Linked DNA regions of Homo sapiens: region 2 is linked to region 1. Evidence: fine-mapped expression QTL. Tissue or cell type: prefrontal cortex. Region 1 holds a variant in brackets; the other region holds the start of a gene. All regions are shown on one strand. Distances are between the middles of the regions.

Region 1 (7,776 bases):
GGAGTTGCTCTGAGTTGCTCAGAAAGGCCCTGGGGACCGACTGACTTTCTGCTCCATTGACAAGGCAGGGACCCCTCACTTCCAAAAAAGAGGAAACCAGGAAACAAGAGCAGACAGCTCCAGATTCAGGTGGATTTCTGGGAAATGATGTGGAGGGGGAACTTTCCAGATTGTTAAATCAGGACAAGAGGAAGGTTTTGAAAGGTTCTGCAGGAAGCAGTTTTCTCGAGCGGGCAGTGTCAGCACACACTGGGCTTTCTCAGATGAAAAGCCGCTTCCCTGGCCAACACCAGCAACCAGGAAGATCAGAACTGGAGTCCTGAACTGTCCCTTCAGAAGCTGCTTGGACTCTGCGTGGGTCCTGGCTCTGGGCTGTGGGCTGTCCCTGCTGGTGCCCATGCCCGGCAGCCGGGCAGCCTCCTCCCTGGCTTCCCGGGGTGGGGGGGGCACTTGGCACCCTCCTCTTGTCCAGAGGCAGCCTTCTCCCTTGGGTGTCCCCAGTGGGCAGGTGGTGGCTCTGCCTGGCCTGTCTTGTTCACCACCCTGGTCAGCCCGGCATCCCCAGAACCAGCAGAACCAGGTGGCTTTTGCCCTGACAGTAGAGGTGGCCAATGCTTACAGAAACCGGGCGGCGGGCATTGCCCTCCCACGTGGGACAGGGCCACAGCCTGAGCCACACTGCTGCAGAGACCGTGTCTTGCTGTAACTGCTCTTTCAGAGGCAGAAGGACCCCAGCGCCAGATGGGGCATGTTTCTTACAAAAGGCCGTCAAAGAAAGTTTGCACGCTTCTTCTAGAAAGATGCTTCTCCAATAGTACACGGAGTAGCTCAGAGTCATTCCCTCAGCCTTTCAGCTTTGGAGCCCCACCGTCCCTCCCCGTTACACCATGGTGACCGAGCTGTCTGTCAGGGGGAGCTTGGGGTCGTCGAGCACGCGTGGTGCCCTCCAGGCTCCGCGAAGAGGGAAAGGCATGAGTGTGGAGAGGGAGGCGGGGGGCGTCCACACACAGGAGAGGGTGGCGGGAGATGGCAGGCACAGCCAGGAGAAGCCTCAGAGCAGCTGGTGTGGCCGGGGCAGGCGTGGGAGGTGGCGAGCCGGCGACAGAGGGCCGGGGTCCGTCTGCAAGCGTCTAAAGGAGCAGGAGCTGATACCTGGTATGGCTTGTAGTCTTCATTCCAAAGCCCAGAGATCTCGGGCTCAGCTAACGTTTCCTCCTCTGAGCTGGCCCCGGGGTCCCCCTGGATAAGCTCACTGGAAACGACTTCCAGCAACCGAGAGGGCCCGGGGCCTGCAGCAGCCTCGTAGTCCTGCAGTCGGGGAGAGGAACATCGCAAAGACACGCTCATGACAGAGAACAGGGAAGAGAAACTCGGCCCAGCCCCCGCCGGTATGGCCCGCTGCCTGCCCCCGTTCTTCTGCCTCACGTACTCTGCATGGAGATAGCGGTGCACACGGTTTTGTAACTTTTTCTACTTGAAATATAAGTATTTTAATACATTATTAAATATTTTTCTACAATGCTCAGAAGAGTCTGCAAAATATTTCCTTTGATAGGAAAATGTTCTAATTCACGGACTGGCATCCTTGGCGCCGATCCTCAGGCACTCATCTGTTCTCATTTTTTTTTTTTTTTTTGAGACGCAGTCTTGCACTGTCACCTGGGCTAGAGTGTAGCAGCGCGATCTCAGCTCACTGCAACTTCTATCTCCCGGGTTCACATGATTCTCCTGCCTCAGCCTCCCGAGTAGCTGGGATTGCAGGCGCCCGCCACCACACCCAGCTAATTTTTTGTATTTTTAGTAGAGATGGGGTTTCACTATGTTGGCCAGGCTGGTCTCGAACTCTTGATCTCATGATCCACTCACCCTAGCCTCCCAAAGTACTGGGATTACAGGTGTGAGCCACCGCGCCTGGCGCAGTTCTCATTTCTGTGGATATAAGCCATGCCCGGGAAAAGCCCCAGGCTGACCCCAGGAGGATGGCTGTGGTGGTTTCCTCAGAATGAGTTTGGGGACGGAGCCTTGCCTATCTGCTCTGGCTCTGTCCCAGGCCTGCTGGAGAAGGGGGAACTGGGCCGGGTAGACAGGGTTCTTCTTCCTGGGGACCGTCCTATGGAGCGACAGACAGGAAGTCTGGACGGGGCCAGCGCATTGCTGTTACTGTGACCTGTATAGTGCCACAGGTGGTGCCACAGAAAATCGCAGGGAGCAGCTCACGGGTGGGGGTGGGGGCAGGGGAGGCTTCTCTGGAGCAAGGAGGCGCAGCAGGGTGCTCCTGGCGGAGGGATCGGCGGGTGCAAAGGCCCCGGCGTGAGACGGGCAGTGAGGGGTGGATGGGGCAAAGGCTCAGCCCAGGCACTGGGAGCCTGGGTAGCAGGAAAGGACCTTCTCTGGTGCCCTGAAGGGCACCGCAGAGACCCTGTGGAGGCCAAAGCTGAGGCAGCCCAAGGCTTTCTCTTTCCCAGCAGGGCATCGGTTGCAGCAGTGACCTTGACCTTCAGGTTTTGGGGTACACAAGGGCAGAGACTGCAGCACTGTGCCAGACTCAGGAGAGGACCATCGTCCCTACCCCACACCTTTAGGGAAAGGTAAACTAGAAATACATTCCCCCAACTGAAGCCAGTTGCCTGCAGCAGCAGTGGACACCAAGCAGGCCCTGGATGTGAGTGAGTGAGTGAATGAGTAAGTGAGTGAATAAGTGAATGTGTGAGTGAATGAATGAATGAGTGAATCAGTGAGTGAGTGAATGAGTGAATGAGTAAAGAATGAATGAGTGAATGAGTGAGCGAATGAGTGAATGAATGAGTGAATGAGTGAATGAATAAGTGTATCAGTGAGTGAGTGAATGAATGAGTGAATGAGTAAAGAGTGAATGAGTGAATGAATGAGTGAATGAATGAAGAATGAGTGAGTGAATGAATGAAGAAAGAATGAGTGAGTGAACGAATAAAGGATGAGTGAGTGAATGAATGAGTGATAGGAAAGCTGTCCTCTAGGTGCTATCAGGAGTGCTTTGTAGCAGGGTGATCCCAGGCATGTGGTCTGAACGGCTGTGCACATCTCCCTGGCAGGCGGCTGACCCAGCTCTACAGGGCCAGGCAAGGTGGTCCCAGCCTGGTGGGCAGCAACACTGCTGGGGGTGACGCAGGGTCTGGTGGGCACACCGAGACCAGGAGGACACTGGACCCTTGCTGGGGATGCTGCGGCCATGGGCCTCTCTCATGTGGTGGGTCCGTAGTGTGTCTTGTCCCCTTGTCCTTGAGCTGAGTGGCGGCCACTCAGCGGGCTCAGCAACCCCCTGCAGGTGGCCATGGTGCTGAGGTCCTCAGAGGATGTCTCACCACACCTGAGCCCTGAGGCCCCACCTGCCCTCCACAGGTGTGCGGCTTCTGTCTACAGGAAGGCGTTTTGCTCACCAGTGTGTACGTGTTGGTTGGGACTGTG[G/A]TCTTCTTGCAAAAGTCAGAAATGTAGTTCCAGGTCTTGTCCCTCAGGGTCAGCCGGTGCCTGGCACTGGTGGGGGGATGCTGTTTCTTCCTCTTTTCCTCCTCAGCCTCCTCTTTCAGAATCCGACTGATGATCTCCTGCTTTCTGAGCTTCTGCTCCTCCTCAAAGGCCCTGCGTGGAGTCGCTTCTCAGATGAGTGCAAGAGGTCCCCTGCCTCCACCTTGCCCCAGATGAGACAGTGCCCGGCGGCCCCTCCCTAGCGCCCTCCTGGGGGCTCCGGTCCTGCCCAGCAGCCCCAGGTGAGACAGCGCCTGGCGGCCCCTCCCTAGCTCCCTCCTGGGGACTCCATCCTACCCAGCAGGGCTCTTGGGGTGGGAACTTCCTGGTCCTGGAGCTAAACGCAAGCTCCAGTGGGAAGCAGATGGGCAGAGGCCAAGCCAGAGGTTCCAGGCTTAAACCCCAGCCCTGCCCTGCCCAGTCCATCCCTGCCAAGCCCAGTCCTGCTCAGTCCTGCCCAGCCCTGCCCAGCCCTGCCCAGCCCAGCCTAGCCCTGCCCAGCCCTGCCCTGCCCAACCCAGCCCTGCCCAGCCCTGCCCAACCCAGCCCTGCCCTGCCCTGCCCAGCCCAGGCCTTCCCAGCCCAGCCCTGCACTGCCCAGCCCTGCCTTGCCCAGCCCTGCCCTGCCCAGCCCAGCCCAGACCTTCCCAGTCCAGCCCTGCCAAGCCCAGCCTTGCCCAGCTTAGCCCTGCCCTGCCCAGCCCAGCCCATCCCTTCCAAGTCCAGTCCTGCCCAGCCCTGCCCAGCCCAGCCCTGCCCGGCCCAGCCCTGCCCACTTCGCAGCCCAGTCCCCCAGCAGCCTTGGCTGCCCGGAGGGCTTCTTCCAAGCCCTTATTTCTAGGCTGGCGTGGGGCTGCCACTGAGAGTAGCACCAGGGCTAAAGATGTTCATCCACTCACTGCAGCTGCACTTCCCGGGTGCCTCCTACATGCCAGGCCTGCGCCAGGCTAAGGGATGTATAGGCGGTGGAGCTGCTGCCAGGACCCCCCCGCCCAGGTGGGCAGGCTGATGGGTGGTGGAGAACTCTGATCGTGACTCAGGGGGGTGGGGAGGACGCACTCAGGGCTCTGTGGCACCCAGAGGAGGATGCCTTGCCCAGTGAGAGGGCCAGGAGCCCCCGCCCAGGCAGATCCTAAGCAGTGATTGGCCAGGGCCGTGGACAGGGAGACTGGGATGGGGAGAAAGGGCCAGGCTCCCGGGATGAGGGCAGCTTCGGGCAAAACCCAGGACAGGGTGGTTTGCGTGGAGGTCACTGGGGAGCGTTACGGGCAGGGCTGGGAAAGGCGAGACTGAGCGGGAGAGAGGGGCCTTGTAGGAACCTGGCCCCGAGGTCTGGATCTCAGGAAGCCCAGTGGGGCCCGTGGGTGGGGGGTCCGAGAGGGCAACATGGGCCCCCGTTTGGAGAAGAACAGAGAGTGAAGCCAGAAGCAACGTGTTCACCACGGACCCAAGCTGGCAGGAGGTGGTCTGAGGGGCCAGGAGGGCCCCAAGGCCGTGGCAGCAGGAAGCCAGGTGGACGGCCCTGGACAGGGAGTGAGCAAGGGCAGGCCCAGCAGCACCAGGTTCCCTGGAGGGGCCTGGTGCTCCCTGGAGACTTCTGGGTGGGCCAGGAAAGAGCCCGCCAGTCCCTCCTTGTGAGAAGTCAGGACAGGAGCCGGAGGCTCTCGACAGGGGCCGGGGTTTCAGCGTCTGGGAGGGGAGAAGGGGCCGAGGGTTGGGCGTGGACTGGAGTAGGGGCAGGGCTGGGCAGGCTGAGTCAGGCCCAGGCAGGGCAAGGGTAGCAGCCTGGAGCCCCTGTTCCCGTGCCCCACAGCCGCCTGAGTGGGCGCCCTGGGAGAGAGAGCAGCTTTGCTCAATGTGAAGCCGAACCCCCTTGGCTCTCCCTGCACCCACTGACTGGGCGGGTGCCTCCCGGTGGCACCTCTGCCACCACCCTCACCTCTTCTGGGCCTCCAGCTCCTGGCGCCGGCGCTGGTGGACAAGGTGCCTGAATGCATCCCTGCCCTGGGCCAGAATCGCCTTCTTCTCAGCCTGGACCCTCTGCTCCGCCAGCTCTGCCTTGGCACGGTCCCATGCTTGGAACTTCCGCAGTGTGTCCTTGGAAACAGAGAGCACTGAGATGACAGCAGCAGCACCCACGGGCACATGCACACGCTCACACCTGCACATGTGCACACACAGGTTCATACATGCACACGTGCACACACGTGCACACACACATGCACACCTGCACATGCACACATCACACATGCACACCTGCACACACGTGCACACACACACGCACACCTGCACATGCACACATCACACATGCACACCTGCACACACGTGCACACACATGCTCACACACGCACACCTGCACACACTCATACATGCACACCTGCACACGTGTGCACACACATGCTCACACGTGCACACACATGCTCGCACATGCACACCTGGACACACATGCACACCTGCACACACGTGCACAGACGTGCTTACATGCACACCTGCACACATACGCGTGCACGCCTGCACACACATGCACACACTCACGCATGCACACACATGCAAACCTGCACACACGTGCACATACACGCTCACACATGCACACCTGCAGACACTTGCACACCTGCACACACGTGCACACACATGCACACCTGCACACACACGGTCACACATGCACACACGTGCACACACGGTCACACATGCACACATGCACACACACATGCAAACGTGCACACACACATGCTCACACACTGGGCCGTTGAACAGATGTCCTTAAACCAATGTTGACGCCTGCAGATCCTGTGAGAGACCACTGGCAAACTGTCCGCACATCCCAAGCGTGGGGCTGGGTGTCCCTGCACGTCACCTGCCCGCCTCTGCTCCTCACCTCTGAGCCTTTGCAGATGCTGTTCCCACTCTTCCCTCCATTTTCCCAGCCTGAATCCCCAGCCTTGGCCCCAGGGCATGGCCTCGAGGCACCCAGGCCCTCCATGTGTCTCATGAGGACGCCACTGCTTCCCCAACAAGACCAGGCCCCATGGGAGCAGGGCTGGGGTGCCTGCTCCTGCCTGACTCCAGTGCCTGGCCCTGACCCACACGGAACCCGTGGGCAAATCTGTGGCACAGGCTCGGGAAGCCTCCAGGGGTCACCAAGTGCGCGGGTCAGCCCTGGACGCCAGAGGACACGGGCCTGGCTCCCAAGGAGCAGGGGCCCAGGGACGGACCCCGGCAGGGCGCCAAGGGAGAGGCTGGGTGGGGCTGCGGGGGCCTACCCGGTTCGCGGAGATGCTGCCCTTCAGCGCCACCACCGCATCCATGCGTCGCCTCATGTACTCGTGGCACTCCATCTCCTCCTTCTTCTCTTGCTCTCGGATTCTGAGGAAGGACATTTAAACATTTTTGAGGCTCTGTCGCCCAGGCTGGTGTGCAGTGGTGCGATCACAGCTCTCTGCAGCCTCGACCTCCCAGGCTCAAGTGATCCTCCTGTCTCAGCCTCCCAAAGCGCTGGGATCACAGGCATGCACCACCACAAACGGCCACATTTTTAACCGAGGAAGTGACACAGCGATGCCGTGTGGGGTGTTAATTACAGGAGCCTCGGTGCTATCATTTCCACCAGGAATGTGATTAATGGTGAGAACACAAGAGGTGGGATGGGCAAAAGGTGCTGGCGCAGAGGCCGGGCCATGACGACATGGTGGGAACATGCCCTGGAGGGCCAGGCCACGAGGACATGGCGGGAACACGCCCAGCGCATCTCAAGGGCCTCTTCTGAAAAGAAACAGTACCTCAGCACTAAAAATACACACTTATTGGTTTTTGATGATAAGGTGGTGATTCAATAATAAAATCAGGAGGCTGGGTGCAGTGGCTCACGCCTGTAATCCCGGCACTTTGGGAGGCTGAGGCGGGCAGATCACCTGAGGTCAGGAGTTCAAGACCAGCCTGGTCAACATGGTGAAACCCCATCTCTACTAAAAATACAAAAATTAGCCGGGCATGGTGGCGCGTGCCTGTAATCCCAGCTACTCAGGAGGCTCAGGCAGGAGAATCGCTTGAACCCGGGAGGCGGAGCAGTGAGCCGAGATCGCGCCACGGCACCCCAGCCTGGGCGACAGAGCAAGGCTCCATCTTAAATAAATAAATAATAAAATCAGGGCATTTCAAGACAAAAGCAAGTGACCCGTATTCTTGGGTTTCTCCTTAAGGACGTCGAAGGGAGGCCCTACCTTCCCAGGGAGGCCTTCAGGAACCGCACGGCAACCTTGTGGTTCTTCCGGGCGTCCT
Region 2 (6,388 bases), 34 kb after region 1:
CCAAATCTTTTGTTCAGATGACATCCTAGGGAAAGTTAAAGAAAACCTACAGGCCGGGCGCGGTGGCTCACGCCTGTAATCCCAGCACTTTGGGAGGCTGAGGCGGGCGGATCATGAGGTCAGGAGATCAAGACCATCCTGGCTAACACGGTGAAACCCCGTCTCTACTAAAAATACAAAAAATTAGCCAGGTGTGGTGCAGGCGCCTGGAGTCCCAGCTCCTCAGGAGGTTGAAGCAGGAGAGTTGCTTGAACTGGTGAGGTGGAGGTTGCAGTGAGCTGAGATCGTGCCACTGCACTCCAGCCTGGGCGACAGAGCGAGACTCCATCTCAAAAAAAAGAAAAAAGAAAACCTACAAAGTAGAAGACAATCACAGCACATAACCCAGAATTTTACTGTCAAGACCATGTAAGGAATATCCATGAATGGATAAAGACAGACAGCCCCACAGCAAAATGGGCAAAAGACGTCAACAGGCACTTCACAGTTAAGGACGTGCCACGTCCCCTAACACGCGCATGGGTTCGGAGGACCAGGACATGGGTTTTTTGGGGAAGGGGGAGATCATCCTGCCTATGGCACCCTCTGGCTCTGCGATTCCTCTCCCAGGAGCACACCCTACAGAAAATCCCACCTGTTGTGTTAGCTTCCCGGGGTCGCCATAACAAAGTACCACAACCTAGGTGGCTTCAACAACAGAGTTGTCTCACGGTTCTGGAAGCCATCGTCTAAAACCGAGTTGATGGCAGGGCCATGCTTCCTCTGAAGGCACGAGGGAAGGGCCTGTTTCAGGCCTCTCTTTTAGCTTCTGCTAGTTCTGTGGCTTGTGGCAGCAAAATTCCAATCTTCATAGGACATTCTCTCTGTGTGCATTTGTATGTCCAAATTTCTCCTTTTTATAAGGACACCGGTCATACCAGATGAGGCACTCACCCTATTCTAGTATGTCCTCCTCTTAGCTACTTACAGGCATCACTGTAAGTCCAAATAAGGTCATATTCTCAGGTCCTGAGGCTTAGAGACAGCCCCGATGGCCACGGTGCCACTGTGTGGATGAATCTCTCGCACAACCCCGAGGAGAAAAAGACAGAGGCCCGCCTGATGCTCTTCCTCTCCCCCTTCCCTTCACTGTCACAGTAGGTTCCCTGGGTAGGGCAGGTGGAGCAGGATCCACAGTGGCCCAGGCTGGGCTGTCGGAGCCTGGCTGGGTGAGGAGGGTGAGGGTATGTGGCTGAGGCTCAGAGCTGTTTGCAGGTGCCTGGCTGGGTGAGGAGGGTGCCGGTGTGCGTGGCTGAGGCTCAGAGCTGGATGTCAGAGCCTGAGAAGAAAGAGGGCGGCCCCAGGTGTGGTCCAGCAGAGGGTATCAGAGCCCAGGCAGGAGAAGAAGGTGTCCACCATGAGAGCCTCCCAGGCCAAGCCTGGGAGTGATGACATATTTGCATAGCTTCCAAATACCTCCTACAAAATGCTTGTGTTTTTGTTTTGTTTTGTTTTTCATTTTGTTTTTTTTTTTTTGAGACGGAGTCTCGCTCTGTCGCCCAGGCTGGAGTGCAGTGGCGCAGGGTCGGCTCACTGCAAACTCCGCCTCCTGGGTTCACGCCATTCTCCTGCCTCAGCCTCCCGAGTAGCTGGGACTACAGGCAACCGCCACCACACCTGGCTAATTTTTGTATTTTTAGTAGAGACGGTTTCACCGTGTTAGCCAGGATGGTCTCGATCTACTGACCTCGTGATCCGCCCTCCTCAGCCTCCCAAAGTGCTGGGATTACAGGCGTGAGCCACTGCACCCGGCCAAAATGCTTGTTAATTACGAAGGAAAAAAGAACTTCCCAGTGGAGATGTTGGCAGATACCACCTTAATCAAGAGCTCAAAGTGAACATCATCAGTAACGTGACAACGTGACCACTGTGAGCCACTGACTGGATGGAATGAACAGGCCACGGTGTCACCTCTGCGACTTTCCTGTCCGAGACGTGCAGTGGGAATCTAATCACGAGGACACAGCAGACGAAACCAAATGGAGGGACTTTCTCCAAAGTAATTGGCCCATGACCTTCAGAGGTGTCAGGGTCATGACAGCCAAAGCAAGGCCAAGGAATGTTCTGGACTGAAGGGGAATAAAGAGGTATGTGAGAATTCAGTGCAAAGTGACTCTAGGCTGGATCCTTCCACGCTGGGGCCCTGATGCAATCAACTGGCAAAGCGTGTTTGACAGGCTGAGGGGTAAACACGGCAACAGGCCTGTGTCCTCTCCTGACTCGGGCCATGTGTGGCTGTGTTGGAGAATGTCCTCGTTTGTGGAAAATACACTCTACAAGGGTGGGGGGCGACAGAGCATCATGAAGGCAACTTACTCTCAAATCCTTCACGAGAAGTTTTTTTGTGCTGAGCTTGCAACTTTTATACAAGTTTGGGATTGTTTCAAAAAATGTTAAAGAATGTATGTGGTATTACATAAAGTTTATATATATTATTAAACTTATATAAACCTTATATAATACCACACATATTCTTTAAAATTTTATATAAATAAATTTATATAAAATTTAAAATAAATGAAAGTTGGCTGGGTGTGGTGGCTCACCGCCTGTAATTCCAGCACTTTGGGAGGCGGAGGTGGGTGGATCATTTGAGATCAGGAGTTCAAGACCATCCTGGCCAACACGCGGAAACCCCGTCTATACTAAAAATACAAAAATTAGCCAGGCATGCTATAATCCCAGCTACTTGGGAGGCTGAGGCAGGAGAATCGCTTGAACCCAGGAGGTGGAGGTTGCAGTGAGCCGAGATCGCCCTGCTGCATTCCAACCTGGGCAACACAGTGAGACTCTGTCTCAAAAAAACAAAAATTTAAAGAATATATGTAGTATTATATGAAGTTTAATATATATTATTAAACTTACATAAAACTATATGTGGCATTATATATAGTCTATATATTTATATTATATATTGTTTATATAACACCACATATATTCTTTAAAATTTTATATAAAGTTTATATAAAGTTTAAAATAAGTGAAAGTTAACTATATTGTTTAGGGACACATGCATAGGTAGTAAAACTAAAGAAATTTATATATCATCTTTAAAATTTTATATAAATATAAAGTTTATATAAAGTTTAAAATAAGTGAAAGTTAACTATATTGTTTAGGGACGCATGCATAGGTAGTAAAACTAAAGAAAAAGTCAGCCATGGTCAAGAAGAGCGGGTCTGTGAGTGGCATGGGGGAGAGACTTTGGGGTGCTGATGAGGTTCTATTTCTTAACTTGGGTAGTGGCTACTGATGTTCGATTTATAACCAATCTCTAAGTCGCACATGCGCATTTATGCACCATCGTTATGCAGAGAATATCAGTCCATTTCTTTTCAACTGTGGGCCCTACAGCAGGCCTGCTTACTACCTCAGTACCTGGCTTATGCAGATAAAAGGAGTATTCCTTTAAGAAAAACAAAATACTAGAGGCAAATCAGCTTCCAAAACTAGGTTATACATACTAAAACTAAATGACTTTGGGGCTATGGACCATGCTCTCCTTTTTAGCTAGGCAGACACTCACGAGTCTTAACTGTTCACCAGACAGGCTGGCCCTTGATTTTTGTTTAATGTTTTTGTAAATGTGTTATAATAATACTTTATTATAACATCTGCTGCAAAGTCAGGGGCGGGTCCCTCAACAGAGGCTGTGCCAGCGCCGGGGTTCCCTGAAACGAACCAGGGACTAGAACTATTAACAAAGTCATTTTTCTGGCACAGCTTTCCGGGAAAGGCGTTTCATATGGGACGGAGTTCTGCCTGGGGGGCGGGGGTCAAACCCTTCCAGCTCAGCCCCAGGGTCAAACGCATCCGCCCCCACACCCACCTCTGGCTGGCCTGGGTCCCAGGTTCTCGGGCTCCGGAGGCACAGACACCCCGGGCTGCTCAGGCAGGCGGCGGTCCTTGGCGATTGCCCTCCGCGGCGCCGGCGGCGTGGTTTGGGGCGGGCAGCTCCATGGCAACGGAAGACTCCATCGTGGCCGGAGGGGGAGCCTCGCCCGTTCTGCTCCCCGGCTGGAGCGGGTGGTTTGGTCCGACCCACCACCGACCGCGCGGGCCGGGGCCGGGGCAAGGAGGTCGCGGGCCCCGAGGCGCGGCTGAAGGGCCAGGCCACAGGCCGCGGGGCGGGGACGTCTCCGGGGTCCCAGACAGCCAGGCCTGGCCCAGGGCCAAGGCTTGGAGGTGACAGACAGACTTGGGGGGCCTGGAGGAGCTCAGCACCGGCGCGTTGGCCCAGAGGACCGGGGCGGGTGCATGATGGTTTGGAGTCGTTTGTCAACCTAAAAAACTAGGAGGTTTCCCGTGAAAATGGGGATTTTCCTCTTCTCTTGCAAATGGAAGATCGGGCTGGGCGCGGTGGCTCACACCTGTCATCCCAACAATTTAGGAGGCCGAGGTGGACGGATCACTTGAGGTCAGGAGTTCGAGACCAGCTTCGCCAACATGGTGAAACCCCGTCTCTTCTAAATATACAAAAATTAGCAGGGCATGGTGGCAGCTGCCTGTAATCCCAGCTACTCAGGAGGCTGAGGCAGGAGAATCGCTTGAATCCAGGAGGAGGAGGTTGCAGTGAGCCAAGATCGTACCACTGCACTCCAGCCTGGATGACAGAGTGAGACTCCGGCTCAAAAAAAAAAAAAAAAAAAAAAAGACTTCTGAATGTTATGTTCCAGCAAAGGCTCCAACTGAAAAATTGTAAAAGTAAATAGCAAAGTCAGTGAGCTATGATGGTGCCATCACACTCTGGCCTGAGCGAAATCAAGACCCTGTTTCAAAATTAAAAACAGCAAAAACCCGGTTGGGCACAGTGGCTCATGCCTGTAATCCCAGCACTTTGGGAGGCTGAGTTGGGCAGATCACTTGAGGTCAGGAGTTCGAGACTATCCTGGTCAACATGGTGAAACCCTGTCTCTACTAAAAATACAAAAATTAGCCGGGTGTGGTGGCGCACACCTGCAGTCCCAGCTACCCCAGAGGCTGAGGCAGGAGAATCGTTTGAACCCGGGAGGTGGAGGTTGCAGCGAGCCAAGATTGCGCCACTGCACTCCAGCCTGAACGACAGAGCGAGACTCTGTCTCAAGACAAACAAACAAACAAAAAACAAAACGGAAGATGGGCCCAACATGCCAAGCCGGTTCCGACGTTCCCCATTGCCTTTCCCACAGTCCCCATCCCCCGCTGCCCAGCCCATCTCACTGTGCATCCTGTTACACCGGAGCCTCTTCTCGCACCGCTGGTCCGTGGGGGCCGTTTGCAATGGAGACATGGGAGTGTGAGGAAAGGGAGTGGTCTCTCACCGGGCCACTCTATGCCAAGAACTGGGCTCACGAGTGAATTGGACGCGTCCCCTACCCTGGCAGTCTTTCAGCCCGCCATGTGTAGGGCTTGCAGGGTGGCCGGCTCCTGATGCCACAGTGAGGCCTGGGAGGTCCTTTGGTTTTATCCTGGCCCATAACCTGATCCATCAGAGGCAAGACACCTTGCAGAATGCCCAGCACCCGTGAGAATGGCTGTGGAAAGTAGCTGGGTGACACCACAGCACCTCTGCACTCACCCACCTTCCGCAGTGCCAGATCGCTTTCCTCCTCAGAATCTGAGGAATAGAACCAAGCCACCATTACCAGCCCAGGTTCGCTTTTATAAGAGAGATTATACTTCTTCCCGACTCCACGGAAATGATAGGGCTTCTTCCTTATCAACTTTGCCTCCCTGGACCTTTCCCAATGAACTGTTAATATACTTTCTAGGAAAGGGCCGGGCACAGTGGCTCACGCCTATAATCCCAGCACTTTGGGAGGCCAAGGCAGGTGGATCACCTGAGGTCAGGAGTTCGAGACCCGCCTGGCCAACATGGTGAAACCCCTGTCTACTAAAATACAAAAACTAGCTGGGCGTGGTGGCGCATGCCTGTAATCCCAGCTACTCGAGAGGCTGACACAGGAGAATCACTTGAACCTAGGAAGCAGAGTTTGCAGTGAGCCAAGATCACACTACTGCACTCCAGCCTGGGCAACAGAGCGAGACTCCAACTCTCTCTCTCTCTCTCTCTCTCGTTCTCTCTCTCTCTCTCTCTATATATATATATATACTGTCTAGGAAAGAAGGAAAGGACAGTGACAGCCTGAGAACAGCCCCGTGTCCATGGAACTGGTTGGTTAAGGAAGCTGTGGAACAGCTACACGATGGAGGTCAGCTGTAAAGAAGGTATAAGGACCATTTATTTCTATGTTCTGCTGTGGAGTGACTCCAGAACATATTGTTAAGTAAAAAAAATTGAGCCAGGCATGGTGGCTTGAGCCTGTAGTCCCAGCTACTTGGGAAGCTGCAGGATGGATTGCTCAAGCCC

What was found. PIP is the estimated chance that this variant, and not a neighbour inherited with it, causes the effect.
Region 2: it holds the start of CFAP74, and the variant in region 1 is the best candidate, but not a certain one, in a credible set for the expression of CFAP74 in prefrontal cortex (CommonMind, PIP 0.80).

What each region holds. Positions count from the first base shown.
Region 1 is chr1:1,965,219-1,972,994 of GRCh38, forward strand. CFAP74 (cilia and flagella associated protein 74) reads right to left here. Exons shown (of 39, transcript NM_001304360.2): 8 at 7,719-7,776; 9 at 6,762-6,864; 10 at 5,441-5,598; 11 at 3,417-3,615; 12 at 1,153-1,308. Among named protein-coding and RNA genes, the nearest start is that of CFAP74, 35 kb to the right of the region's middle. RefSeq lists enhancers at 5,465-6,246, 7,613-7,776. The variant G/A (reference allele first, on the strand shown) is at 3,445.
Region 2 is chr1:1,999,833-2,006,220 of GRCh38, forward strand. CFAP74 (cilia and flagella associated protein 74) reads right to left here and starts at 3,954. Exons shown (of 39, transcript NM_001304360.2): 1 at 3,869-3,954. RefSeq lists a silencer at 3,818-4,112.